Linked DNA regions of Homo sapiens: all the other regions are reported to be linked to region 7. The links are microRNA targets in miRTarBase. Many come from high-throughput screens and were not tested one by one. Region 7 holds a microRNA gene; each other region holds the end of a gene's coding sequence.
What was found. Region 7 holds the annotated microRNA hsa-miR-6766-5p (CGGGUGGGAGCAGAUCUUAUUGAG, at 2,829-2,852, shown strand). A microRNA usually pairs through its seed, bases 2 to 8, with sites in the 3' UTR of a target mRNA and lowers its output. Matches are read on the target gene's strand: a 7mer-m8 pairs with bases 2 to 8, a 7mer-A1 pairs with bases 2 to 7 and ends in A, and an 8mer does both.

Region 1: miRTarBase lists ARMCX6 as a target of hsa-miR-6766-5p. Seed matches in the 3' UTR shown: 7mer-A1 at 679-685 and 7mer-A1 at 1,186-1,192.
Region 2: the mRNA of RTL10 is a reported target of hsa-miR-6766-5p. Seed matches in the 3' UTR shown: 7mer-m8 at 2,891-2,897.
Region 3: miRTarBase lists SEC22C as a target of hsa-miR-6766-5p. The part of its 3' UTR that is shown has no 7-base or 8-base seed match.
Region 4: miRTarBase lists PLEKHG3 as a target of hsa-miR-6766-5p. Seed matches in the 3' UTR shown: 7mer-A1 at 2,183-2,189.
Region 5: miRTarBase lists ANP32B as a target of hsa-miR-6766-5p. Seed matches in the 3' UTR shown: 8mer at 3,487-3,494 and 8mer at 3,483-3,490.
Region 6: miRTarBase lists C11orf58 as a target of hsa-miR-6766-5p. Seed matches in the 3' UTR shown: 7mer-A1 at 2,136-2,142.

Annotation. Positions count from the first base shown.
Region 1 is chrX:101,612,289-101,616,365 of GRCh38, reverse strand. ARMCX6 (armadillo repeat containing X-linked 6) reads left to right here. Exons shown (of 3, transcript NM_019007.4): 3 at 1-1,241. The coding sequence ends at 648. Among named protein-coding and RNA genes, the nearest start is that of ARMCX6, 3.7 kb to the left of the region's middle. RefSeq lists an enhancer at 2,195-2,757.
Region 2 is chr22:19,847,812-19,851,888 of GRCh38, forward strand. It overlaps RTL10 (retrotransposon Gag like 10), which reads right to left. Exons shown (of 3, transcript NM_024627.6): 3 at 1-4,077. The coding sequence ends at 3,356. The region is part of intron 2 of GNB1L (G protein subunit beta 1 like); the gene reads right to left. Among named protein-coding and RNA genes, the nearest start is that of GNB1L, 5.0 kb to the right of the region's middle.
Region 3 is chr3:42,549,872-42,553,948 of GRCh38, forward strand. It overlaps SEC22C (SEC22 homolog C, vesicle trafficking protein), which reads right to left. Exons shown (of 7, transcript NM_032970.4): 7 at 1-3,577. The coding sequence ends at 3,377. Among named protein-coding and RNA genes, the nearest start is that of VIPR1-AS1, 19 kb to the left of the region's middle.
Region 4 is chr14:64,743,129-64,747,205 of GRCh38, reverse strand. It overlaps PLEKHG3 (pleckstrin homology and RhoGEF domain containing G3), which reads right to left. Exons shown (of 17, transcript NM_001308147.2): 17 at 1-4,077. The coding sequence ends at 3,503. It overlaps SPTB (spectrin beta, erythrocytic), which reads left to right. Exons shown (of 36, transcript NM_001355436.2): 36 at 1-923. Among named protein-coding and RNA genes, the nearest start is that of MIR7855, 41 kb to the left of the region's middle.
Region 5 is chr9:98,014,961-98,019,037 of GRCh38, reverse strand. ANP32B (acidic nuclear phosphoprotein 32 family member B) reads right to left here. Exons shown (of 7, transcript NM_006401.3): 7 at 3,095-3,674. The coding sequence ends at 3,607. Among named protein-coding and RNA genes, the nearest start is that of ANP32B, 34 kb to the right of the region's middle.
Region 6 is chr11:16,754,575-16,758,651 of GRCh38, reverse strand. It overlaps C11orf58 (chromosome 11 open reading frame 58), which reads right to left. Exons shown (of 5, transcript NM_014267.6): 5 at 312-3,781. The coding sequence ends at 3,548. Among named protein-coding and RNA genes, the nearest start is that of C11orf58, 18 kb to the right of the region's middle.
Region 7 is chr15:89,325,634-89,329,633 of GRCh38, reverse strand. MIR6766 (microRNA 6766) reads left to right here and starts at 2,824; the gene lies at 2,824-2,895. It overlaps POLG (DNA polymerase gamma, catalytic subunit), which reads left to right. Exons shown (of 23, transcript NM_002693.3): 4 at 524-691; 5 at 803-949; 6 at 1,099-1,178; 7 at 2,285-2,467; 8 at 2,571-2,722; 9 at 2,896-3,022; 10 at 3,948-4,000.

The DNA.
Region 1 (4,077 bases), not on the chromosome of region 7:
GACAGGCCCTCAGGGGGAGGCAAGGCCAACCGAGCACACCCAATAAAACAGCGGCCATTCCCCTATGAACATAAAAATACTTGGAGTGCTCAAAATTGTAAAAATGGCAGTTGTGTTCTGGACCTCTCCAAGTGTCTTTTCATTCAGGGAAAACTGTTGTTTGCCGAGCCCAAGGATGCGGGCTTTCCATTTAGCCAGGATATCAATAGCCATTTGGCCAGCCTCTCAATGGCTAGAAACACGAGCCCCACTCCAGACCCCACTGTTAGAGAGGCTTTGTGTGCCCCGGATAACTTAAATGCGAGTATTGAAAGTCAGGGCCAGATTAAGATGTACATCAATGAAGTGTGTCGGGAGACTGTGTCACGTTGCTGCAACTCATTTCTGCAGCAGGCCGGATTAAATTTGTTAATAAGCATGACAGTTATTAATAACATGCTTGCCAAGTCCGCTTCAGACTTGAAGTTTCCTTTGATATCAGAGGGAAGTGGATGTGCTAAGGTTCAGGTTTTGAAACCGCTGATGGGTTTGTCTGAAAAGCCAGTCTTGGCGGGGGAGTTAGTCGGTGCCCAGATGCTCTTCTCATTCATGTCCCTCTTTATCAGAAATGGAAACAGAGAGATTCTCCTGGAAACCCCTGCCCCATAAACGGCCCTCTCGAACACAATGGGACGGAATCCACCCACAACGCGCTTGGTTTGCAGATGTCAAAGAATCTGCAGAGGGTGCTACTGAAGATCCAGCCTTAGCCAATCACCACCTCATTGGGTGAAAGTTCCAGGGCTCAATCCAGGACCACACTCTTATTGGCCAGGCAGGGGCTCCCACAGAGCTTTGAGTAACTTCTTGGTTGTGCAGTCTGCAGGCAATGTTGGCATTGTAAATTCCTCCCTTGCAGCCTCCTTCATGTGGTGAGGGGATCACTTCAGCTGCCTGCTGTGGACAAAGAACATCAAATTACAGCATCACGAGTGCTATTGTTGCCTGTGGTGGTCTCCCTGTCCAAGCGGGACCGCTTTGCAGAGACCAGAGGCATATCGCGGCTTGAGCTGAAAATGCATTTGTTGCAGCTTAGGTTGAATTATTTTTCGTTTGCTCTTTCTTCTACACGCGCCTGATGGATAGTGAACCTATTCATCAAAAAAGTGCACTGCTCTTCTGTCTATTGTACCGACTTAACCTCTTCCACCCAAGTCCGCATCTGTGTGTATCATCAATAAAGTTGTGTGCTTTGATTGGCAGAAAAGAGTCATGGTCCTTGTCCTTGAGTTTACAGTCTGCACGGAGAGAAGGACAAAAAAAAAAGCACGGTAAACGCCAGCTGACTGGAACGTCTGCTCCGTGACAAATGCAGGCTTATCGGTGCTCACAGGAGGCAGGGATAGAGAGGGGCTGCAGTGCTCAGAATAAACTTCAAGAAGGGGCTGGAGGCGGGGGTGGGGGAAGGGGAGGGGCACAGCGGGGGAGTTCGTGGAATTAGGATGGAATGTTGAGAGGACTGAAAGAGACAACACCCGTGGAGCAGGCAGCACCGTGCCCCGGCACAGAGAAATCCCTTCTTAATGTCTTTTCCTTGACTGCCAGCCTGGAGAGAAAGGTCAGTAACCCTGGCCTTTTCGATTGTCGGCGCATCCCGACGTGGGGATGGGGACCGGGGTGGAACGGGTGGGGGCGCTCTACCACGCATCGGGGCGCATTTATTGCACAATGATGGCGATAAAGGTTGCCGCTTGCCCAGCACCTACCCTGTGTAGTTCTATCCCTCCTGCGAAGCCAGGGGGAAATCTGCTTCCAGCCCTCCTTCTCTCTTCCTTGGGATCCCCAGCGCTACTTCCTGGCAGAGTGAGAGGGTTGGCCGCTGCTCCCTTTGGAGCAACCTCCTTTCTTCCATATCCCCACTACCTGTGGTGGGACCCAGGAAGGGGACAGTGGAGCCCTCCATCAACTACCTGCGGGGGTGATAGGGCAGATGCTGAGGGCACTTGGCACGACCGTGGCCACTCCATCCATCCGGAGACACCTCCACACTCTCCATCTGAGGTGCCTGCACCTTGCCAGGAAAGGAAGAGCCCGTGGGCGCAGAAGCACTCCATGGGTCAGGGCAGCTCGTTCTGCCCCGCCCCCACCTCCAACATTACCAGATCCCGCCCAGCAGGTTTAGCCCCTGAATCAGCAAAGCCAGGTTCCCTGCATGTTTGTGATGTGTCAAGAAGTGGTCCCCTTCCCTAAAGCCATGGCAAACCCAGTAAACACATCTGCTTCCCCTTGGGCAAGGCTGCTGCCGTGCCCGGTGCCCTCTCGGTCTCCCAGGGCTGCTGCTGTGGGTCACTGTGTCCTGGGCAGCTGCGATCTCTGTGGTGCTGGGCATTCTGCTTGTTCTGTTCCACACAGAACAAAGCTTTCTTTTCTTGTCTTATTCTCCCTTCCCCCCGCAGCTTGCCTTCCAGGTGGGTTACAACTTTCCTGCTTGTACCATCTGCCCCACAGTCCATGCTGGCCAGACGGCCTGAGTGCCTGCCGGGTCCCCTGACCAACTCTGGGAAACCCTCCCACCTGGAATGGGGACCAGACCTCTTCCCAGGCCCTGGTGCCTGGGATGGCCAACAAGTGACTTGCAGTTGTTGTGACACCACATCCCCTGTCAAGGCTCACACTGCTGGGGCTTCCTTGGCTGGCTCTGGGAGCCCTGTCCCGGTTCCTAAGGGTTCCTAAGAGCTGTCAGAAGGACCACCCTTTCTCCCAAGCCAGCCGCAGTTTGGCTGGGCAATCTGATTTCAAAGGGGATTTCCCTGCAGACAGCTCCGCATGCACTTTTCCCAGTGGAGCCTGCTTCGCCAATGCTGTCTTTAGTGACACCTCATTGCTCAGTCTCTTTGAGCACAAAGGCATCCTCCTAGCCTGTGGTCCCGAATTAGCATGCACCTCCCTACTTCCCTGCACGCTACCAAGTTTCCCTTTACGTGCGCTTGTCCACCATCGCTGAGGCACTTGACACCGTGAGGCCGCAGCTGAGTCCTAACTCAGGGAGCGCCCCAGAGGCTTTCTGCCCATCTCCTGAGCAAACTCTGTCACAGAAAAGCCCATCAGCGTCCAAGTGTCTCCACGGCGTTGTCTTGGCCCAAGTCAAAACCCTCCTGTCCATTTGCTGGCACTGCCCTCCCGAAAGCACTCACGCACAGCCCTTCTGTCCTGCCCCTCATCCCCTGACTGGTTGCAGTGCCTGGGTACGAGCCCAGTTCCCGTGGATTCTGCCTCCCTGGGATGCGCGGGGGGAGTCGGGAGCATGCCTGCCTCCCAGGGCCTGATCAAGACACTGAGAGGTTCTCAGCACTGGCAAGAGCGCCGGTGCCCCCATTCCATATGTAACGCAAACATAAAAACAGCCCTGAGCCATCAATCACAATGCATACCTGCCTGCTGCAACCAAAAGACAGCCTTTCTGGGCTTCCCCGTGGCAAACATTGGAAAAGGTCATCAATCCTGAGCTTGCCACATTCTGTGAGAAGTGCTCTGCCTTGATGGTGCCGCCCCAGCCTGAGCCCGTCTCTTGTGTCAATCTGGAACTGCCGCCACAGGCTGTCTTCCACCTCCAGAAAGGGCCCTCAGTTTTGCTTCTCATCTATCTTATGAGCACGTTTCCATTTGGTGCCTGTAGGCACTGACTGACTTCCAGACCAACTTCAGGTGCCCTCCCCAGCCTGCTGCCTCTCCTAGGGATTTTGTGGTTTGCCACCCCCACCCCGCCCCCCTCCAGGTGAGTGCACACAAGGTTGCAGACAACCAGCTTCCCGGCAGGCACGTCCTGTCTCAGACACGGGACCCTCACCGGGGTGCTATGTGTCACTCTCAAAGCAGTATCCACCACGATCCCCTTACTTTTAAGTGCCACCCTGGACCAGCATAGCCCTCACCCAGTCCGTCCCTCTGACGATGCACCACTGGGCTAAGAGTTGGGCAGCTGTGGCAAGGGGTTGCTCTTGCCTCTCTTCTGAGGGACACTGGCTGCTCTATGATGCAGATGGGCACTGCACCAGAGTCCAGCAGAGTGCTGCAGAGGGCCGGCCCTTGCCCCGTCTG
Region 2 (4,077 bases), not on the chromosome of region 7:
AAAAAAAAAAAAAATTCACCCATATTTTCCTCTAGTACTTTCATAATTGTAACATTGAAATCTTTAATCTGGAATATGTACTGGCATAAAGAGTGAGGCACATACATGGCTTTACTATTTTCCAGAGGGCCAACTGCTTTTACTGAATAATCCATTTTACTCGTTAATTGGAAACACCTCTAGCCTGTACTAAATTTCCATATTTATTTGGCCCGTTTCAAAGTCCTCTATTCTCTGCTCATCTGTCCACATCTAAGTGCTTTAACTATTGTGGCTTTATAAAATATTCCAATATCCCATAGGACCTTATCCTTAGTACTTCCTATTTTAAAGTTTTCCTTGCAGACAGGTACTTTAAATACCATCTCACAGCACCCATCATGTCCTATCTTCAGGAAATAAAATCTCTGGGTATTTCCAAGGGAAGTGAAGGACTGACACCATGATTAGAAAGCAGAGCCAGCACCATGGCCCGTCCCTGAGCATGTCCAGCAAACCCTGCCAGGCTCTGCAGCTCCTGAGCACCCTGCCTTCGGGTCTGCCAGTGTGTGGGGGCCAGAAGAGAAAAACAACCCAGGGGGAATGCCTCCTTCCCCCAGCAGGAAAGCAGCTTGGTCATCATCTGTCTGAAAGCAGGTGCTGCAGCAGCTGGCAACAAAGCCACTCTGAAAGGAGCTGTGTGCACTGCCTGTCTGGAAGGCCATGCCAGAGTCCATCGTTGCCTCCACCCTACCTGTGCAGGAAACCTGGACATCACCACTTCAAGGCCCTACCTTCCTTTCTGGGCAGAGCCCAACCACAATAAACAGGACGCGTTTTAATTAAAAACCAGGTCACCTGGACTCTCCCAAGGACTCTCAAGCCTGCCTAGGTGGATGCTGCATGACTGGCCCTCAGACACACGGCAGACCATAACTCACACACCCCCAGGAGCTGCCTGGGTCCCAAGGGCACAAAAGCCCCAAAGCCCCAATAGGACAGGGTTCAAAAGAGAAGGCAGCAATCCCAGGCTGGAGTATCCACTTCAGGTCCACTAAAGGGAGATGGGGAAGGTGGCCTGTCCAGAAGCCTGTGGGACAGGGTAAAGGTCAGCTGGGTGACTAGGCTGTCCATCCTAGAGAGCAACTCTGGGTTCTACTGCCAGACCCACAGGTGAGCCAGGCCACAGTGCACTGGAGGTAGGCATCAGGGAGCAGTCTGACCCAACCCACAAAAGGGGGGATGGGGCCTGAGTCATCGGACGGAGGGCAGCTGTGACCTGGCACAGAAGCATGGGGCTGGGCCAGGACATCCAGGGACTTCTCACATCTGACCAGAATCAAGACTGAAAATGGGTTTCTTCTGCCAGCTCACTTGCTTTGCTACCAGGGCTATACCTGCTTTCTAAAAATAGCTTCCCACCTATTTCCAAGGTTTCCAGTTGTTTTACCTACAAGGTATCTGTGCCCTGAAATAACTCACACATAAAACCATCTGAACCCAGAGCCTTTTCTAGTGATAGTTACCATAAAATAATCCCAACAATTTATATTTTTCTAAATAAGGTTTTTGTTTTTTGTTGTTTTTTTTTTTTTGGGATGGAGTTTCACTCTTGTTGTCCAGGCTGGAGTGCAATGGCGTGATCTCGGCTCACCACACCCTCTGCCTCCTGGGTTCAAGCAATTCTTCTGCCTCAGCCTCCCAAGTAGCTGAGATTACAGGCATGCACCACCACACTTGGCTAATTTTGTATTTTTAGGAGAGATGGATTTCTCCATGCTGGTCAGGCTGGTCTTGAACTCCTGACCTCAGGTGATCCACCCACCTTGGCCTCCCAGAGTGCTGGGATTACAGGTGTGAGACACTGCTCCCGGCCAGTTTCTGAATAAGTTTAATCAGATGCTTGCTAATTAGTTTTTCCTAAAATAGTTGGCTGTATTTCCAATTCACATTTCTGCTTTTTCTTCCTACTTTCCAGGAAGGTGTTGTTTTGTTGTTTTCACAATTGTAAACCTGAAAGGGACTTGAACTTCTTGTCCAAGCACCAGAGTGGGCACACACTGCACACACTGGGCGGCTGTACCTGCCTATCCTGTGGTAAACTTGGCTCCAGGAGCTTCCAAGCTCAGCTTCCACTAGAAAACCCCTCCTTGTGTGGAACAGGTCTTTCTTCATTCCATTCCTCTGGGCCTGGGGCCTCACAGCTCTGGACTGCTGCCTGGTCCTCACTTCACCTACAGCTCTCGGAAGTCAGTTCTCTACCTGCAGAGCCACCCACCCCCTACTCAGCCCCACCCAGCTTCTTTGATCAGACCCTTGGACCCTCAAAGCCCCTGCCAGAAACCACAGCTGCAATGCTGACCTGGAATGCTCATGGCCAGGCCTCTGCTCCTGACAGAATGGGAAACAAAGACTTGCTGGTAGGCAGCCACTGCACCACCTCAGCCAGTAATCCAACACGTGTTTAATGAGCACCAATTGTGTACCAGGCCACAGAGCTGACTAAGACAGAGCCCCTGTGCTGAGGGTCACAGTCTGCCAGGAGGGAGATCCAAGTCATTTACACACTAGGGCTTAAGTGCTGAATCCGCAATGCATGCGAGTGCGGAGTGAGCAGGGGATGGCAGCACAGCAGCAGGGAAGAGGAGCCTGCTTCAGAACACCAGGCACGATTAGAGCTACAGTGTTAACACACAAAGGGCGAATGCCTGCAGCTGAGCCTGGCAAGGGGCTTGCATCCCACCTTCCTGCATCCAAACCTTCCAGCTGCCCAGAACTGCTGGTAATCCCACAGGAAACATCATTCTTTGCCAAGATGCTATCCCACTCATCCCCCAGAATCAAAGTGGCCACTTCCTCCAGGCAGCCTTCCTCACATTCCAGCTGGGACAGAAGTCACAGGGAGCAGAGAGGGTGGGGCTAGGGGGACAGACACAGAAACCCCATACAGGAACGAGGTCCCAACAGGGCAGACGTGGCAGACCCAGTTCAGTCCCAGCCAGTGTGGAAGACACCAAGGGGGGTGTTTTATGGGGGTGGAGGTGACAAAGATGATGCAACTATCTGCTGAGAGTTGATCTACAAAACGACCCCCTCGTGGGAGCAGGCCTGGGTGAGACGGCACTCCCAGAAGACGGGCAGGGATGCAGCAGAGAGCCAGCAGCAGGGAAAGGGCACAGGGCGGAGGTCAAGCTCTGCTGGAGTTGGGGGAGCTGGTTCTGCTCAGCGCAGAGTCCAAAACAAGCGCATCTTGCCCAGCTATGGGGTCTGAAGTCATCTGGGGACACCACTCTGCTCTGACTGGGGACTATGGGGCGCTCAAGCCACACAGGCCACTTCATCATGAGGGGCAGCATTGTTCCCACCTGGGCTGTGTTCAGAACCCAGGAGAAAGTGGTGGCTCTCCTGGGGTCTCCGGGGCCTCCACCACCTCCTGTGGGGTACCTAAGGACACCTCCTGGTCTCCCTCTGTCTCCAAAACCTCCTCCTCTGTTTTCTGGGGTTTTGGACCTCCTGGATGAGCTGGGTCTGGTCTCTGGGCAGGAGGATTAGCTGACTCCGACAGTCTAGGGACAGGTGTGGGGGCTGCCTCCTCTGGCTGGGAAGAGGCTGGTTCCACAGGACCAGGCTTGGAGCTACATGTAGAACTGGGCAGGACTGGGGGCTCCTTGGGCCCAGGGGTGCTCTCCTTGGTCAGCTGCTGCTCGAACAGAGCACTTCTAGATACAGAGTTGGACCCAGACACAGCAGGGGTGGCCATGGCGGCTGGTAAAGACCTGGGGGCAGTACCCATGTCGAGTGCCAGGCCCTCTAAGAACCTAGCTAAGTATTGCCTCACCACAGGCAGCTGAGGGGCCACTGGCAGCTGGCTGGAGGCCAGGGGCAGGGGACAGGTAACCACAGCATGGTACTCAGCAAAACTGTTCGGGTCTTGAACAACTTCCTTGAGATCCTGGCAGAAGAGCTCGTAATCGTCAGGCAGGGGCAGGTCCCCATCAAGGTAGGGGGCTGCCCAGGCCTGGGCTCGGCCTGTTAGGCGCCTGAGGATCTCGCAGACACGGCTGATGTTGTCCTGATAGTGCTCAAAGTGGAAGGACA
Region 3 (4,077 bases), not on the chromosome of region 7:
TGCAAGCCCAAAAAGCAAAAGCAGGAGCTTATGGTCACATGCCTCCAGCTGCAGGCAGTGGGGCCTCTGGTACTGAGAGGGAATGCCACCCGAATATGCCCCAGCTGTCTCCACCCAGGAAAAGGAAAGCCAGGTACACTTCTCATCACAGTAAGACTAGCCTAACAGGGGAAAACAGATTTACATGTTTCGTTCATTAGCATATTAGGGAAGGGGAAACCTTTTGGGCTCTGGCCCCGTGGTTGGGAAACCCTTCCTAAGAGCATGGAGCCACACTCTGGCCTTGATACAGTAGATGGGACTTAACACACTCTGATGCTCAAGGCCTTGCAGCATCTGATACCAGAAGGCACCTCTAAAGTTTTGTTTTCAACATTATTTCATCTATTCCCAGATCTAGTCCAGTGATGTCAGCTGCACAGGTAGCATTTAACTACTGGGAAAACAAAAGTGCTACAACAACAGTGAGTCCATGGTGGAGTGAGGATAACTCCTGGGATTTGGAACCAGTTTGCTGGTATCAAGGATCACACAAGAGGCTATAAACCTCCAACCCTGAACCAAGTCAAACCTAAGCCTGGGGATTTCCCTCGGATGAAATCACCAGAACTTCTTTCCTATTTTCAGTCTCTTCCTTCAGTGAGCTGAGGATTCTTTTAGCTAGCTGGATTTCAGTCAAACAATGTTTTTGTGGTCATTACTTGTACTGTTTTTCTAGTGCATCTTTTCCCTTTTGTTTGCAAAAGTCAATCTCACCCCATGTAGATGTTAACTGATATCCACACATTCGACCTGGTGTGGATAACATCTCTGGTAGTGCCTCGGTGGTCAGGAAGCATTACCAGGAAGGACTCATCTTCAAGGACCGTTTCTTTACTGCCTGCTGAATATGGATCATAGGCTCAGATGCCCAAAGCACCTGGGGTACAGGTCTACATGGCAACCCAATGCCACATAGGAAAAGAAAACAGTCCATTTTTAAGCCGTTCTTACCGACTTTTTTTTTTTTTTTTTTTGAGACGGAGTCTTGCTTTGTCACCAGGCTGGAGTGCAGTGGCTCGATCTCGGCTCACTGCAACCTCCACCTCCCGGGTTCAAGAGATTCTCCTGCCTCAGCCTCCTGAGTAGCTGGGGCTACAGGCACAAGCCACCGTGCCCAGCTAATTTTTGTATTTTTAGTAGAGATGGGGTTTCACCATGTTAGCCAGGATGGTCTCGATCTCTTGACCTCGTGATCTGCCCACCTCAGCTTCCCAAAGTGTTATTGACTTTTAAAGCTTTTTTGTTCTTCTCATTTAAAACATTTTACCTCCCCTCCTTAACTTCCCATTCTATTTCACCATCTCTTCAAAATTGTCTCCCAGAAAAACTGAAAATTCACCTGCTGGGTATGCAGAAAATTATGCAGATGTGAAATCAGTGTAGAGACAACTTTGGAGTTTATGTCTGAGTATGCTGCCAATATAATTTTCATATTCAGACTTTTTAGAGACAGGGTTTCACTCTGTCATGCAGGCTGGGGTGCAGTGGTGTGATTATAGCTCATGGAAGCCTCAAACTCCTGGACTCAAGGGATCCTCCTGCCTCAGACTCCCAAAGTGCTGGGATTACAGGCATGTGCCATCACATCCGGCTAATTTTTTTTTTTGTAGAGATGAATCTTACTATGTTGTCCAGGCTGGTCTCAAACTACTGGCCTCAACCGAGTCTCCTGCTTTGGCCTTCCAAAGTGCTGGGAATACAGGCATGAGCCATCATGCCTGGCCCATATCCAAATATTTTATGTTTGGTCAAAAATAGAAAATTCTATTATAAAAAATAAAGTTACTATGGCAACATTTTCCCAACATAGTTCCCAGTATATAAACTTATTTTTCTTAAAATGATAACAAGGTAGCTCAATAACAATACAATACCAGTGATAACCAAATATAATTGAATTTTTCTAAAACTACATTCTTACATTCCCTATCCACTCAACTCTTGTAATGGTTTTCCACTTTTAAAAACTATCAAAATAGGATTTTTAAAAATTTATCAAGACCACATAATGCAGTTGAACACTCAAAGTGTTCCATGCAACTGTGGTTGAACTATTCAGATTCCAGACTTCTACCAAGAACAATCCAAAGAGCAAACTCCCAAAATGACCTCCTGCGTGGTACAAAACAAGCCAGGCTGAAATTTCGGGAAACCTAAGGGATCTTATCCAGAACCATATTTTGGAAAACTGTGATCAATCAATTTTTTGACAGTGAAAGAGAGTAACTTTCCAGAGTATGTGTTAATTATATCTCTATCAAGCTTTAAAAAGTTAACAGATACTTAACTCTTGTTCATAAAAAATGAGGCCCTCAAGCTAATTAAGATGACTGGGAAAGGTGCAGAGGAGTAATTAATTTTGGAGGCGCTCTGGGAACAGGTACACAGGGTACAGTAGTCATCATCATTAAAACAACAGGCACTCAGCTCTACTGAAAAGGCTGATGACAGCAGCCCCTCCCAAGCGGATCTGTAAAGTGCCACTGAATCCATGTTCATTCACCTACTCCAGGTTGTGGTCAATTGTAAGTAATCCTGAAATTCTCATTTCTGCTCATGCTGACAAACTTATCATCTAGAAGTACTGGTTATTCAATTAATTTTTAAAATATTCGGATATACCCTGCAAATAAATATAAAACATCTCTGTACCCAAACAGTCCCACCACTATAAAAGGTTACATATAAATTAAATAAACTCAGATTTCTTAACCATTTTCTCAGCTTAAGTTTGCCCTCACCCTAAATGAAGTCCAATTTATATCCAAAATATAATTAAATATTCCAAAGGTATATCGAACCTAAGATATTGAAAAAATGTAAACAAAATTTATCTAGCTTACATTTATGAACCATATTTTTAGGTTTTTAATTCATCCTGTACTGACCCTCTGAAAAAAAAAACTAATCAAGTTATGTTTAGACTGAAAGCTGATTTGGATTTTAAAGTGGTTCCTTGGAGACAACTCTCAATGACTAAAACCAGTGTTATTGAATCAAGTGGTTTACTGTATCATTCAACTTAAAAGACCAAAATATTTCCTTTCTCTCTTCCAATAAAGCTCTTTCTGGATGAGCCCCCAGATCCAGCTGTCCTAGGTAAACGTGCTGAACTGGCTGGAGATCCTGCAGTAATGCTTGGCACAGAACCAAGGCTGGGTATCAAGCAACCTCATGACTTCCACTGCAACTGTTTAACATCCCCAATTCCTGGTTTTTCAGTCCAGTTGGCTGAAAAGGATGGAAACTGGAGTGTAAAGTAGAGAAGCAGAAAGAGAAACATAGATTGATCCTCAAAAGAAAATCAAAGAATCCATTCATCACAGTGTCATCCTCATACTCCACAGTCAGACTGCTTCTCCTGAAGCTGCCTTGTTAGTATCTGATATGAAGACAGAAAAGCCACTCCTATGTGGAAAAGGATTTGCCAGAGGTTCCTCAGCCCGTGCAGGTACATGTTGCCCAGGCAAATAAAGAGCAGCATAAGCACCACCTTCATAGTCCTGGCTGGACTGTAGAACAGGTACAAATAACACTGAAATGAGACCAGAAGAGGAATTCCAATCAGAGATAAAATGGCCACTAGATCATATGCAAAATTCACCTCCCACAGCTTCCATGAAGAGTGTCATTTCTCTCACATTAGCTGATTAAACTGAATTCATTACAGTAAAGCGTGGACCCACTGGTTAGGCTGCTAATTATTGGACGAAAGTGAGGATTTGGAAGATTAAAGGAAAGTGAAATAGATGTCACAGGAAGAATCAGTGCATGGCACATCTGAAAGAAGTTAAAGAAATAGACAGAAATGACCAGGCTGTTGGCAGTAGAGAAAGAAGAGCTGCACATAAGCTGCAGACAGCCAGGCTGCAGACAGGGGACCCTAACGTGACTGACTGGCCCCCCAGTGAAGTTTTTCTTCAGGGAGCCAGGACAGGCAAGCAAGCTGGTGAGAGAAAGCCATGCTTTTACTATTTTGGTTTCTCCTGAGCCACGACTACATTGAGCACCACTCTTCCCTTGGGCACCCTCCTT
Region 4 (4,077 bases), not on the chromosome of region 7:
CCCCTTCCACGTGTGCCAAATCAGCACCTGAAGTGAGGCATTTCCAGCAAGCAACTCCACAGACCCGAGAAAGGAAGGGCTCTAGTGGAAGAGCTAGCATCTCACCACCCCAGGTCCCCTGGCCTGGTCCAGGGCAGCCAGCTGCATGTGACCATTCTGTTGCCAGCTCCCCACACATCCCTCCTGTCACCCAGGCTCCAAGACATTCGACCAACTAGACTGAAAATGCAGGCATCCAGCTTTGGGAGACCCTGTGTGTGCCACACCAGGGCTAAGCTCTCCCAGTGCCCTAGCAAGGTCTTTTTTTTTTTTTCTCTCCTTATTCTACTCTACAGTCTTTTGACAGTATTCCCAAACGAGGTTGACACAGCTCCAGTCCACACCAGCATACCAGGCTTCCTTCCCAGGGCAGTTTAGAGGAAGCTCCTTCTGGGCAAGGTCAGGCGGTCCTCCTTCCCTCTCTCCTTCCCCTTTGTCCCAGCCTCAACTGACTCTGGCTGTGGGAGGTGTGGAGGGTCCTTAGGCTTCCCTCCCCAACCTGGCCTCCACCAACACCCCTAACAGGAGGCCCGTGGAAGGCTCAGCCTCTCCTCCGCATCCCTCCTCCTTCCTGCCTATCGGAGGGAGCCAGGGTCCCCTAGGCTGACCCTGAATCCTCTTCCTCCCTTCATGGGAGGGGGGCAGGAATCCAGAGGAGGATGAAGCCAGCGGGACCACATGGCTTGGTGGCTTGGACAAACAAGCTCAGGGAGGAAATGAGGAGGCGGCGGCTGCAGAGGAATGCAACCCTGTTGGGCACAGACCATGCAATCTGGGGCTGGCCCTGGGGCCAGCTGGGTCCTGTCCTCCACCTGCTCAACCGTGCTTCCACCAACCAGAGGAAACCCATTTACTAGTTTTTCTAATAAATCAATAATGCTCCATGTTTCTCTCAGTTTCTTATTTAACTAGCCTCCTCTCCCTTTGAACTGAGCCTAAGAGGGCTGGCACCATGGAGACAGAGGGACAGCCAGATTCTCTAGCTTGTCCCTGGGAGCCTTATGGGACGACTGCAAGCACCCGGTTCCTGGGCTTCATCACAAACTCCAAGAAAAGCTTGCTCATTCATGCATTTGATCAACTTGAAGGCCTACTGTAGGGCAAAATCATTTCCAAGCAGTGATCAGTCCAGGCCCCTCCCCACAGAGCTCAGGACAGATCTCAGCACTCACTGGACCGCAGAATCATCAGAATCTCTAAGCCTGGGATTCACCTCCAGAGGGCAGTTTCTGTTGGTCTAGGGAGATGGAATGTAAGCACTGCGTTTCCAGAAGGCTCCCCAGATAATTCCAATGGGCAGCCAGTGAGAACCACCGACCTGGTGCAAGGTTCCCAGGCATACCTAGATGGCCGTGTAAGGACTGCCTGGGGAAGGGGTTAACTACAACTTCCTGGGCCCCACCCTCTGAAGAGCCCCAGTCGGGTTCTTCAAGGGAAGATCAGAGGCTAGTGACAACCTCTCTTGAGCAGAAGCAGCGCAGGGCAGAGATAGCCCCTGGTCTGGCAGCTGCCCTGAATCTTCTGTGGTCATTCCACAGTCACTGGCTCCTGCCAGGCCAGTCTCAAGATATGATGCTGAGTAACCACAAGGGCACTGGACAGTGTGAGGGTCAGGGAGGCGGAGGTTGCAGTGAGCCAAGATTGCACCACTGCGCTCCAGCCTGGGCGACAGAGCAAGACTCCGTTTCAAGTGGGGGATAAAAAAGAATCTGGGTCCCTCTGATCTTCCCTTGACCTTGTTAGACTTAGCAGACCCATCTTCAGGTTGGGTCAGAAGGCCCACAGGGCCCTGACCCAGCAGCCCTGCTGAACACTTGTCAGGCAGCTCTACCACCCAGGCCCTGAAGCCTCTACCTCCCAGGCCCCAGCTAGAAAAAAAATTAAGCAAAATGAGTCTGGACCTCTGTGGAGAAAGGGCAGAAAACCCAACTGAAATAGGGAGGCATTCCTAACTCTTCTGAATCAAAGATACTTCTGAGAATGTGATAAAAAGGGAGGAATCATCCCAGAAAAATGCACTTGTACTCCTCATCCAATGTTGCAGACACCTTTAGGACATTTCTAGTCTCCGAGTTTAGAATCCTTACCTTCAGCCGCATGCAGTGGCTCACCCCTGTAATCCCAGCACTTTGGGAGGCCGAGGTGGGTGGATCACCTGAGGTCAGAAGTTCGAGACCAGCCTGGTCAACACGGCGAAACCCCGTCTCTACTAAAAATACAAAAAATTAGCTGGGTGTGGTGGCTCATGCCTGTAGTCCCAGCGACCTGGGAGGCTGAGACAACGAGAATTGCTTGAACCTGGGAGGCGGAGGTTGCAGTAAGCCAAGATCACGCCATTGCACTCCAGCCTGGGTGACAGAATAAGACTCTGTCTCAAAAAAAAAAAAAAAAAAAATCCTTGTCTTCTAGGATGTTTCCTGGGGACCGGAGAGAAACGCAAAAGGCACCAGATACTGGGAGCATCTGCTTATGAGAAAAACAGTCTATCCACCTCACCACCTCCCTTTTTCTTGGTCCAACTCTGGCCCTTGGGGAAAAGAGCAAAAGGCTGGCATGCGGGACCCCCTACCCTAGACAGGACAGCAGGCTGCTGCTAGACAGAGAAGCCCATGGGAGTCTAGGCAGCAGAAAGAAAAAGCCCGCCCTCACATCCTCCTGCCCCACCTCCCCCACCAGTACCCGGGTGCCTTATGTTTCATAAGCCCAAGTGACAATTGAGTGTGGAAGGAACAACCTCCATGTCTCCATCTCCCTAAGACATCCCTGGCCCATGAATAACCTTCCCTACCCCAGCCAAGCCTAGGAAGGAGTTCACACATAGTGGGTTGGTCAGCAGTGGTTATTGCACCATTGGCAAATAATGAAATGTGTGTACATCAGCGACAACCACAGGGTCAGCACAACAACCCTCAAAAGTACCTGAACTGAATCCACTTCATTCTTGACAGGAGGGGAATAAACAGGGGCCACACACTCACGCACACGCACATCATACCACAGAATGGAAAGCAATAAATTATTGGCTTCATTCCTGCCTGGACCCTAAGAAAAGGCACCGTTACAGAACAAAGCCTCTCCAGGCCACTGCCTGAGTCTCCTGGGGATGGGCTCCTCCATCTGGCTGTGGCCATGGCCAGCCAACGCTGGAGGCCTGAGCAGAGCTTCCTCTCTCTGGGAAGAAGTGAGCTTAAATATTTGGCTTCTTACCAGAGAACAACTATTTACAAGGGAAGCAGCCACACCGGCCTCACAGGTGAGTGGGAAATTGTCTCGAGCCCCAGTGGATGGCACAGGCAGGAGACCCCTGCACACGGGAGCATCCTTCCTGAAGGGCGGAGGGGATGGACTTTCCGCCCACCTGAGGGCCCTGGGCAGGGGCTCCATGAGCCCAGGCTTGAGGGGAAGGATGCCCAGGTTCTTCCCCAACCTCCAACATGACTCCTCCCTCCCCCAGGAGTCAGCATCAACCGACAGAGTTCAAGGCCTGGAACTTCTCTCTAAGGTTTCTCACTCTGCCCTGCTGGCTCGGGTCTGCCGGGTCCCTGGAACCCTCTTCCTTCGGCTGGCACTCTGCAGACTGCTGGAAGTCCTGAACCTGCCCCAGCAGGGCCACCGGTGAGCTTGGTCCCTGGCCACTGCTCTCCTCCAGCCCTGCAGTGGGGCTGGGAAGGGGTCCCTTCTCCATGACAATCACCCGCCGGTTGTCCTCCAGGGTGAGGTCTGCAGTGACATACAGGGTCTCGCCTCCATCCGGCTTGCTCTGGGGCAGAGGCCCAGGGGATTGGGCAGCCTCTCCGCCTCCCCGGCCCCTCTTGGTGCTCAGGCTGCGGCAGCGGCCCACCCTGCCCGACAGAGGTGGCTCTACCATGTTCTCCGGCACCGAGTGGCTCCTGTTGACGGGTGGGCCGCGGGGCCGGCCGCCCCCTGCTCGGCGTGCCTCATCGCGGGAGGCATACTTGGAGCAGAGCTCACGGACGTCGGGCCAGCTGAAGGTCTCTGTGGGGCTGAGGGGGCTCCGGGCGGAGGGCCGGCCCCCAG
Region 5 (4,077 bases), not on the chromosome of region 7:
AGGATCACTTGAGCCCAGGGGTTTGAAACCAGCCTGTGCAACATAGTGAGACCTCATCGCTACCAAAAATATTTAGCCAGGCATGGTGGCACGCACCTATAGTCCCAGTTACTCAGCTGAGGTGGGAGGATTGTTTGTGCCCAGGTCGAGCATGCAGTGAACCATGATTGTGCCAGTGTATTCCAGCTTGGGTGACAGAGTCAGACCGTCTCCAACAACAAAAAGCAATAGAATAAGGGTATTTTCTCCATATGCCCTCCCAACACCCCTGGGACAAGTTATAAAATACCCACTTGATCAGAGATTATTAAGCTGACCTAATTGGCTCTGAGGACTTCCACACTCACTGCAATCTTGGTGATTTTCCTGCAGAGCAACTGTTTGGCTGGCTGCAGCTTAAGTCTACTAGTAACTTGATTCCCTTTCCAAACTGTCAACACGGCGGTATCATCAGGCTCATTAAAATTGATGGCAGCACAATGCAACAGAGCTGGAGAAAACTGGAAGGTCATAGCATAGTGTACAACCACTTTGTGCTTCTGTCTCACCTTTCTCTGGCGATGGGGTAGGTAGTGTAGCCCAGATAGGAATGCCAGGAACAGGACGACTCAACTCTCCTGTATCTGTCCTGGAGTATGTACCAGGAGTCCTGGTGGTGGTGATACAGGAGCGGGTAGGGTGCAGTATCTTACACAAGGTGGTTTGTGCATTTCCACGCTGGCCACTATCATTCTTCAGGTGCTGGACTCCTGAAAGAGGAGTGAACTAAAGGTAAGAGCAGAGGTTGAAAACAGGGCGCCATGGACCGGGCACAGTGGCTCACACCTGTAATTCTGGCACTTTGGGAGGCCAAGGTGGGTGGATCACCTGAGGTCAGGAGAGTTCAAGACCAGCCTGACCAGTATGTTGAAACCTCGTCTCTACTAAAAATACAAAAATTAGCCAGGCGTGGTGGCGGGCGCCTGTAGTCCCAGCTACTCGGGAGGCTGAGACAGGAGAATTGCTTGAACCCAGGAGGCGGAGGTTGCAGTGAGCCAAGATTGTGCCACTACATGTCAGCCTGGGCGACAGCGAAGACTCCCATCTCAAAAAAAAAAAAAAAAGAAAAAAGAAAATAGCTTCAAAAAGATGGCATACCAATGTATCACACATGTAGGTGTGTATGTAGAACACACCTCCACCAACCTCGGAGCAGCTAGTCAGGACCAGTCATCTAGCCCATCATAGCTGCCACCCAGCTCAGACATTTTATAACTAAACTTACTGCAGAAGCTGGAAGCAAACCCTCTCAATGTTCTCCTTCAGATGGGAGACAACTCCAAAAATAGTCTGCTGTGTGACCTCATCACCAAACAGCTTGCTTCTCTGAGGACCATGTCAAAGGCATCTTCACTGGCCACATACAGGTGACATCAATATTTTACTATAATGCACAAAAAGGCTTTGACCTTCAAGGCCCCCTACAAGAGCCCAAATGACTTGTCCAGTATTATCATCTATTCATGTGTTGTCAAATCTACTTGTATCTAACTGTACTCAGCAGTTTCCTACCTTTAACCTCTGCTCACCAAGATACTCCCTTCTCTCTCTATTCCTATTTATAGACGCTATTCACACTTGCATGTGCAGCTGAAGTACTTTCTTTTCTAAGAAGCTTCCCTCCCTCCAGGTTGGGTGCCATCTCTCCAGCCTCTGAGCTACACTAAAACTTACCTAAACCTCTTGCTCCTAGGTCCTAGTAAATATTACTTGTGTTGATGTCTTTTCTTCCTGACTAGTTACTATGAGCACCAAGGGCTGGCTTGTCTTTTTAACCCAATTCCCTTCCCTTTTGCCCAGCCAATAAGCCTGGCATATCCTACAGGCTTGGTAGATACTGGGAAGTTCTGTAAACTTTAAAAAACAACTAAAAACAACAACAACAACAACAAACCGGGAAAAATAATCACTCAAAGTTACTGTGTTTGATATTTGACAAATAAGCAAAACCTTAAGGACACACTTAGGCTACAGAAGAAACCATTTTACAATGTATTGAAGGTTTGCCAAAATGGCCTTATGGTTGGGGAAAATGATGTGTAATACCTGTAAAATCAGAAATCAAATTTTCTTGGATTTTCTTTGCAAAAAAGAAACTCCATTTTAAAGTCTATGGGAGATTTTGATTTTAAAGTACAGTATTTGGGGGCTCCATAGAGACTGTGACTTGTTATAAATTCAAATTAGATTCCAATTTTACATATTGCATTTACATGCATCAAAAACCTCACTCATTCCAGCAGCTATAAGCTAAAATTTACTGAAACAATCCTTAAATCTTCCACTATAAAAAACTGTATTGATAATGCAGTCATACATCTATTTTCGCTAAACGGTTAATCACTGAATACAGACAGAATATCCTCCTTTCTCAAATCCCTTTAAGATCTGTAAGAATAGAGAAAATTTCCATCTTATGGAAAACCTGAGTTGACCTCAGGCAGTGCCTACCCACTGCTTGGTGAGGCTTTTCACATGTCATTCCCCCTTTTCACGCCTGTCTTGGCAACAAACCATACTGTGTTCACCCATCAGTCAAACCCTACATGCTTCAGACTAGTGGAAAGCCCATTTTTCTCTTCAGACCTTCCTGTCAGCAAGGGTCACAGAACATCAGTGCTACAAGTGACTTCAGAAGCCATTTGGTCACACCCCTTCAATTTTCCAGACTGGGTGGTGACCCAGAGTCAACACAAGGTCACACAGAAAATCAGTGGCAGAGCCAGAACTAGAATTCAGATCTCTTGGGATTCTGGTGAAGGCCTTTTGCTTTACACTATCTTCTTTCCCTTAATTCACATAATACTTGAACCTAACATTTTACTGGTTTTCAGGGCCCCAGAGTATTCCATTTTGAACGTTATTTTTTAAAGTATGCTTCATTTACTCCCAGTTATCAATGAGGATTTGATCTAAATGCTCAAAGATCCTACACACTTGTGCAATTCCCCTCAACAACTACTAATATAAAAATGCCAAATAAACCAGTTCTTTGGTGTTTTAACATGAGCTTACAATGAGAGTATAATTTAAAAATGTAAGCATACAACTAGGCTTTACCAAAGAGTAACTGTTTATTTCGCTTAAATTCTTAAAAATACTTTTTTGGCAGTTGTCACATAAAATGTCCTAATGTAAAAAAAATAATAATAATAATTAAAAAGCAAAGCATGAAAAAACAGACCCAAAATGTTAAGATTTTATTTACAAAGCTTTTTTGTTGTACAGAAAGTAAAAATGCTGTTACAATCTCAGTGTAACTGGTAGCCACAGACGGTTGACTCACCAATCACAGCTATCCACGCTACAGCAAGAATCTTACACAAAAACCTAACAACGCTTACAATTTTGTTGGGGTGAAGTCCACAAGCTTGGTGGTAGATTACCAAGAGGGACTACATGGAAGGAAGGCGGAATGTCACAGGAACTATTCTTTGGCTCTTTGGGTGGGTGGGTGTCCTGGGGTTTGTATCACAGCTACCTTTTTTTTTTTTTTAAACAGCTACAAAATCCATGAGCAGTCCAACCAATACTGAACAGTTCTGTTTCTGCAGGTCATCTGGGGTCTTAATCATCTTCTCCTTCATCATCTGTTTCTCTCTTCCTCTTTTCACCTTTCCCACCTTCTTCCTCCTCTGTACAGTAACAAAAATTGACTTTAGGACAGTGGAAAGGCATTTTGCTTAGATTATTGCCAATGGAGGCAACAACAACAAAGTTTTTGACAGTTAGGAGATAAAACAATGTAAACTTGATCAGATTAATATAGGTGACTAATAGCAAGTATAAGTGGTGACCACAGAACCAAGAAAAGCAAAATGCACAGCAGCACCTCAACTCACCCAGGAAAAGTTAATCCAGTTTCCTCGATTTTAAGGTGTTGTCTTCCAAATGTTTCTTTTTACAAATCTAGCAATTATTAAAGTGCTTATTATTAACCTGAGCTGGTCAGGCCCACTGGCTCATGCCTATAATCCCAGCACTTTGGGAGGCCAAGGCAGGCAGATCACCTGAGGTCAGGAGTTCCAGACCACCCTG
Region 6 (4,077 bases), not on the chromosome of region 7:
CTATCCTCATTTTACTTACCCAGAAAGGAGACCCAGAGAGATCAACTTATGCTCAAGGTCACCGAGTTTAGCCCTGTGGTAGAGTTGGGATGTCACAACCTAGAGCACAGAATCTTGTCCATGGCTGTGGATTTAGTAAGTGAAGTTCAGGGAATTTGTGCCTGAAGGTCTCTATTTTTATGTAAGATAGAAGGCAAGGACATGTTAAGAGTGAAGGAAAAAAAGAGGGTAACAAGTTTCAGAGTATAAGTTTTACATAGTAAGAATGGAGAACCGACTAGAGAAAATAAGGGTAATGGGCAGTGCTGAGGTCAGTTAAAACCAATTTTTACTAATACGGATTTATACATTTGGTGATCTTTCTCCAGAAATAACTGGTGAGGGTAGGAGGGCTTGGATACATCTAGGGCTGGGAATTTTCCAGGAAGTCGTTTGGGTTAACAATCATGATACTGAATTGATAGATCAGGAAGCCTAGATAGGACTTACAGAGGTGGAAACAGACTACGCCCTAACACAGAGCAGGTATAAAGGAGGAGGAGTTGGTTAGAAGTGAATACTTTTATTGAGTGATTTTAGAAGTTGTTTTCGGATATTCCAAGTATTTAGGATGTGGCTGTGGTGGAAACAAGTAATGGAACCAAAGCCCTGTGTGTAAGTAGTCACTGAAGCTAACCAGGTAGCTGAAATTTATTTCCCCCAAATTTACTGAAAGAATGTGACCTTTGTGCTCTCAAACTGTGGTTCAGGCACTCCAGAATTTTTTTCTGTACCTTCAATTCTCTCAGATTTAAAAAATTATACTAGAGAAGAGGACTTTTGCCTATGAATACAAACAACATTGCAATCTGCATCTGCAAACATTCTTTTCAATAGACGGTTAGGTCATGGATACAAGTAAACACTTGGATATAAGGCAAACATTTAAAAGTGCATTTCAGGTATTAAGTCATGAATGATATGGAAAAGTTGCCACTAAACTTTCCACTGAATAGTGTTTCACAGCACAAAAATAATCTATTTTCCTGATACTTTTTTAGTATGGATACCAAGACAGCATGACATCAGTTGTCTAATTTTTTTCCAATTTGATTTAAAAAACCCACATGTTCAGGCTTAAAAGATAGCATTATGTTTAATGGGTGCTAGGAAACCAGGCCACATGGACCAACAGACCTAAATTTACTCTAACCCTGAATTTTGTTAGCACCCAATAAATGAATTAATTGAAATCTGGATTTCTCTATACGGAGATGAAGAAAGTCTTTTAGTGTAGTTATTTTAAAACAAGTTGCTCCTATTTCCTTATCAGAAACAAGACCATATCAACAACCCAACATTTAAATAATGAACTGAAAATACTTTTAAAAACCATAAAACTCATCTCTATCCCATTCTTAAGTAAAAATCAGTCTTCACTTTCTACTTAGTTATAAGCAATCCCACAGACATTTGAAAATCAGTGGGCAAACTAAAATTGTTGAATAAAGCCAAACTTTTTCAAACCAAGTATTTGTTAAATGTCATATGTATTGTCTACTATAAAGTGATTCAATATTTTACTATAGAGGATAGCATCTATTTTTCAAAAATGTGAGAAATTAAAAAAATAACAAGGCAACAACTTTGGGGTCTGATACATGAAATAAATATACTGCAAGATAGAGTCTATCAACCAGAAATCACCTGTTCTACTTGTTAAATTTCTCTAACACATTCTAAATTTTTTTTTTTTTTTTTTTTGAGATGGAGTTTTGCTCTTGTTGCCCAGGCTGGAGTGCAATGGGGTGATCTTGGCTCACTGCAACCTCCGCTTCCTGGGTTCAAGTGATTCTCCTGCCTCAGCCTCCTGAGTAGCTGGGATTACAGGCATGCACCACCACGCCCAGCTAATTTTGTATTTTTAGTAGAGATGGGGTTTCTCCATGTTGGTCAGGCTGGTCTCAAACTCCTGACTTCAGGTGATCCAGCCACCTCGGCCTCCCAAAGTGCTGGGATTATAGGTGTGAGCCACCGCACATGGCAACACGTTCTACATTTCAAAGTGACATAAGAATAATTTTTAAAAATTCCAACACTCCAAGGCTGGGCGTGGTGGCTCACGCCTGTAATCCCAGCACTTTGGGAGGCCAAGGTGGGTGGATCACGAGGTCAGGAGATCGAGACGATCCTGGCTAACACCGTGAAACCCCAACTCTACTAAAAATACAAAAAATTAGCCAGGAGTAGTGGCACATGACTGTAGTCCCAACTACTTGGGAGGCTGAGGCAGGAGAATCGCTTGAACCTGGGAGGCAGAGGTTGCAGTTAGCTGAGATCGCGCCACTGCACTCCAGCCTGGGCGACAGAATGAGACTCCGTCTCAAAAAAAAAAAAAAAAAAAAAAAATCCAACACTCCAAATACATCCTTTAAGTATGTAGATGTATAATAGCTCAGCTCACAAACAGGTGTGACTAAAGCCTTTGAACTTGTTACTTATAAACATTAAGAATTTGGACCCCATTATCCAAAGATCCATTTACTAGCTCATAATGCAATTTGTGTTAATCAGCTATACAAATCAACCACCTAATAGCAGTCAGATGATTCTAATCTCACACCAACAGAAACAGCAATAAAATTAGAAAGTAATACTTTTTAGTAATTAATCAATAAAATAGCACTGGGATAAAATGAAGAGAATTTCTTGTTTCAGCTTCTTATCAGTAAGCCTGTTCCTCATTTGTAGATAATGAGGATAAAGGTATCACAGCCAAATATGGGAAACTGCTCTTTATTTAGACCTTTGGGACAAAATTAACTTTGGTCACATATTACTTAAAAAAAAATCCAGTTTTACATATTTCTAAATAGACAGAACTAAATGATCAGAGAATTTCTTCTGTAAAAATTGGCCAAATTTTATCAAAAATCTAACATACGATACAATCCAAATTATAAAAAGACTACTTGGGATCATAATATTCCAAATGTATGACAGTTATAACTCCATCTTAACAAGTGTGAAAAGTACTTGCTCTCATGTTGCTTTGGTCCAAAAGAGTAGAGCTAACTCAGTAACAGGAAACTAAGTACCCAATCTTTTGCCAAAATTAATTTAGATTGTGACTGGCAGCAGAAATATCCATAATGAACAGCTCTACTATAACAAAGAATAATTAAAGAATACTTTTCGTGAACATATCACAGTATCAAATACATTTTTATAAGAGAAAAATATGAAGGAAATGATAAAATAGCTATCACAAACAAAAAGAAGCATTTCCCCCATAAGGTGAATTAGAGGGTTGATGATGCTAATATGAAAGGAAGTTGAGTACTGTATTTATTTCTTATTTTATACAACTCTTACTCTTTACAAAAATGGTTATAGTCATGCCCATAAAAGTGTAACCCATGGCATTTGAAAGCAAACACTCTTTGTAATTATTTAAAAGGGCCTTTTTAAAAATTATAATACAAAGGTCTGTGCTCTATAAGCAGTCCTCCACTGTGCATTGTAACAATAAGGCTTACTTTTAATACAAAGACTAAGCGTTTGGGAGTTATGAACCACTGGATTTAACAAACATCATTTTATAATTGCTTTTTGCATCTTTTTTGTTTTTGGGATCCTCCACTTCATCAGGGTGCTCAGCAGCTTGGAGTTCTTCAGCAGATTCTTCTTTCTCTGACTCTGAATCGCTTTCAGAATCATCTGGACTTTCAGGATCAGGTGAATCATCATCGTCATCATCATCATCTCCAGCCACATCACCTTCTCCATCATGGTCTTCTACCTAAAACATCAATCAACAGGCTCTTTTAAAAATAAACATTAGCCCATACAAAATCTGAGAAAGACCGTAAGTTCTGTCGGTCTTAGAAACACTCTACTTTGTAGCCATTAGAACAACAGCTTTAAGACTTGAGTAGAATTTTAAGAAAGAGCTCTGTCTGGCTGGGCCCAGTGGCTCATACCTGTGGCTGGGATTCCAGCTACTCAAGAGGCTGAGAGGCAGGGGGATTGCTTGAGGCCCAAAGTTTGAGACCAGCCTGGGCAACATAGTGAGACCCTGTCTCTTAAAAAAAAAAA
Region 7 (4,000 bases):
TGGTGTATAGTAGTGGCAATTCTTAATTTTATGAAAAGTGTTTTTTCACTGGATCTTCACAACAGCCCTAGAAGATAGGCCAGGCAGGGGAGAGCAACCTTACCCTATAGCTGAGGGTGCTGAGGCTCAGACAGCCTTGTTGACATGCTCAGGGCCACAGAGCTTTTGAGTGGCAGGGTTGGGGCCAGACCAGATAGCCCTGAAGGCTTTATTTTGGCCACTCTGTATCTACGTTGCTCAGAGCTATTGTTGGAAGCTGAGAAGGACTTGCACATTGGGATTGAGCCAGGCCTGCATCTTAAAGGGTGGCTAGGATTTGGGAAGGCAGGCCCCTTACAGGTGATGGGGCAAGCATGAACAAGCATGAGGATTCTGTATTTGGTGTTGAAGGCTGTGTGCTGGGAGGGGAGGCTGTTTGAGGAGCTGAGGTGGGGCTGGAGGTCCACACCACCAAGCAGTGGTGGGCTGGCCCCACAGTTGCAGCCTCCCTCCTTCCCTTCCCTTTTCTCCTCCTCCTCCTCAGGGTTCCCGCATGCGTTTCCTGGACACCATGAGCATGCACATGGCCATCTCAGGGCTAAGCAGCTTCCAGCGCAGTCTGTGGATAGCAGCCAAGCAGGGCAAACACAAGGTCCAGCCCCCCACAAAGCAAGGCCAGAAGTCCCAGAGGAAAGCCAGAAGAGGCCCAGCGGTGAGAGCACACTGCCGGTGGGCAGGAGCATAGTGCTTGGGACCCCCTCTCACCAGCCCGTCTGGCCCGAGGCCAGGCTGATCTGCCATGTCCCTTGCTCTGGTTCCCCAGATCTCATCCTGGGACTGGCTGGACATCAGCAGTGTCAACAGTCTGGCAGAGGTGCACAGACTTTATGTAGGGGGGCCTCCCTTAGAGAAGGAGCCTCGAGAACTGTTTGTGAAGGGCACCATGAAGGACATTCGTGAGAACTTCCAGGTATGGTGCTGGAGGGGGCTCTGGGGACATGGGCTGTGGCACACCCCTAGCTGCACTTGGGGAGATGCAGCTGCCAGGCCTGACCCTGAGAGCTGGTGGTGGTAATGGGATGGCTGCCCACCTTGCGCCTTCCTGTCACCTTGTGCCAGGACCTGATGCAGTACTGTGCCCAGGACGTGTGGGCCACCCATGAGGTTTTCCAGCAGCAGCTACCGCTCTTCTTGGAGAGGTGAGGGGGAGCCCATGTGGGAATCTCTGGGGGTCAGTGTGTTCCTGGTACCCGGGCCCACTGTAATCAGGTGGCGCTGGTTCTATCTCAGGTTGGGGACCTTAGCTTTTCTAGGCTGAAAGAATGGAGCCCTTCTGTTCAGTGGTGTCCATCTGGGCCCTGGACTCTGGATTTGACAGAGGCCCTGAAGGGGAGGGCCATGGAGTTGTGCTTGTGTGTCATGTGCACGGTCCTGGTTTACTGTGCACCTTCTCTAACTAGATCCTTAGCCAAGGGCTTCACATACAGCGTGGTTATGTTTATTAATGAGTCTGTCTTATGAAGTGACCCTTGTATGCTGAAAATTCAGGTATATTTGTACCAAAGATATGGAAAGAAAAAAGAAGGGAGGAAAATTTGGGTGTAACTTTTGACTCCCTCAGAGCTTAACTACTAATAGCTTGCTGTTGGCTAGAAGCTTTACTGATAACATAATACATATTTTTTATGTTATACGTATTATATACTGTATTCTTAAAGTAAGCTAGATAAAAGAAAATGTATTAAGAAAATCATGAGGAGAAAATATGTTTACTATTCATTAGGTGGAAGTGGATCATCATAAAGATATCTATCCTTCACGTTGAGTAGGCTGAGGGCGGGGGTTGGGCTTGCTGTCTCGGGTGGCTAAGGCTGAAGAAAATAAATGTGTAAGTGAACTTGCACGATCCAGACATGTGTTGTTTAAATGTCAGCTGTATTTTACCACCCAAGTTGTGAGGTTCAGGCATGATGTTTTTCATGTATGGGATTATTAGCACAGTGCCTGGCACAGAGTCATTACTCCACGTGTGGCAGCCATTTTCACTTTTGCCATCTATATTTCCCACATTACCCCTGAGGATGGGATGATATTGTTCCCATTTTATAGATGAAAGAACTGAGGCTCCGAGAGATGGGGTTGCTTACCCAGGGATGAGTAACAGTAGAGCTGGGATTTAATGCCGTCTGACTTTTGAGCTGTGCCATGTCAGTGGCTGGGTTGAGGCTTGCTAAACCAGCTCAGGGATTGGGCCAGTCTTGCCTCCTGTGGTCATTTATGGCAGCTCCTGGTGTTTGCCTCCAAGGTGTCCCCACCCAGTGACTCTGGCCGGCATGCTGGAGATGGGTGTCTCCTACCTGCCTGTCAACCAGAACTGGGAGCGTTACCTGGCAGAGGCACAGGGCACTTATGAGGAGCTCCAGCGGGAGATGAAGAAGTCGTTGATGGATCTGGCCAATGATGCCTGCCAGCTGCTCTCAGGAGAGAGGTAGCCAGGCCTTGGGTGGGCAGGATCTAGGCAGGGGACTGGCAGGTGGGCGGCCTAGCCTTCGGCTTAGCCTTAGCCCTGCCCTAGTGGACTGGCTCTGTAGGTACAAAGAAGACCCCTGGCTCTGGGACCTGGAGTGGGACCTGCAAGAATTTAAGCAGAAGAAAGCTAAGAAGGTGAAGAAGGAACCAGCCACAGCCAGCAAGTTGCCCATCGAGGGGGCTGGGGCCCCTGGTGATCCCATGGATCAGGAAGGTGGGGAGCATGGGTGGGAGGTAGGGTAGGGTAGGGGTTGTCTCTGGGAAGGTCCTGTGATTGAGGGGGTCCTTCGAAAGGATTGCTCCAGCCTTCTGGAGATGAGCGGGTGGGAGCAGATCTTATTGAGAGTTCCTTCTCCTGCTCCTGATTGTCTTCCCCCACCCTCACAGACCTCGGCCCCTGCAGTGAGGAGGAGGAGTTTCAACAAGATGTCATGGCCCGCGCCTGCTTGCAGAAGCTGAAGGGGACCACAGAGCTCCTGCCCAAGCGGCCCCAGCACCTTCCTGGACACCCTGGGTGAGCCCTGCCCACCCCCAGCAGTGTATCTAGAGTCTACCCTTGCTCCATTCTCAGGACAGCCCTGGTCTGGGTTCTGGCACAGAGGCATCATGCACATGTATACTTATTGACCTGCTGCCATTCAGTCACACTGTCTTCCAGTCCTATTCTCATTTGCTCACTCTGGACCGGCTCACTGGACTCATTCAGCACAGTGTTGTGAGCACCTGCTGTGCAATGGCCCGTGGCAGCCACCGGGTGTACACACTGGAGCATAGCTCCTCCTTTCCAGTAGTTCTTTTTCCTAGGAGGAGCCAGGCACGTAGACCAGCCAGTGCAGCTAGTGTCCATAGGTAGAGTTCTGACTCTGCCTCGGGAAATAAATCAAGAAGGCTTCCTTGAGAAGGTGCCCCTTCCTTTGAGCCTCATAGGGTGGCAGAGATGAGAAAAAGGGCAGCCAGGGTGAGCAGCAGGGTGCCAGCTTTGCACCTGCAAGACCCTGAGAGCAAGTGTCCTGAGTGCCTTGCTAGTCTCACCCTGGGCTCAACTCTGGTGAACAGCCTGCAAGAGAGCACCCAGAAGGACTGGTGTTTCTCTAGAGGGGTGGGGAGGGCAGATCTGCTCCCTCCTCTGGTCAGTTACCCTGGATGAAATGGAGCTTGGGAAGGAGCCCTGCCCTGGGTCAGGGTATGCTTTTGTGTCCTGGCTTCTGACTAGTCCAGTGGGACTGACTTAGTGTCTTTGCTTTTGAAATATTCTTCTAGAGGATTCCATGGGGGTCCTGGCTAAAGCATCCCAGAGGAGGGGATGGCGGCTGTAGGCTGGGGTCACCAGAAAGCCCCAGGGCTTTGGAGGGTGGGTGGGGACATTGTGAGAGAGAGAACCTTCCCCCCAACAACTGCCCTTACCATCGTGACACTGCTGTCTTCCTGCTGGGACGTAGATGGTACCGGAAGCTCTGCCCCCGGCTAGACGACCCTGCATGGACCCCGGGCC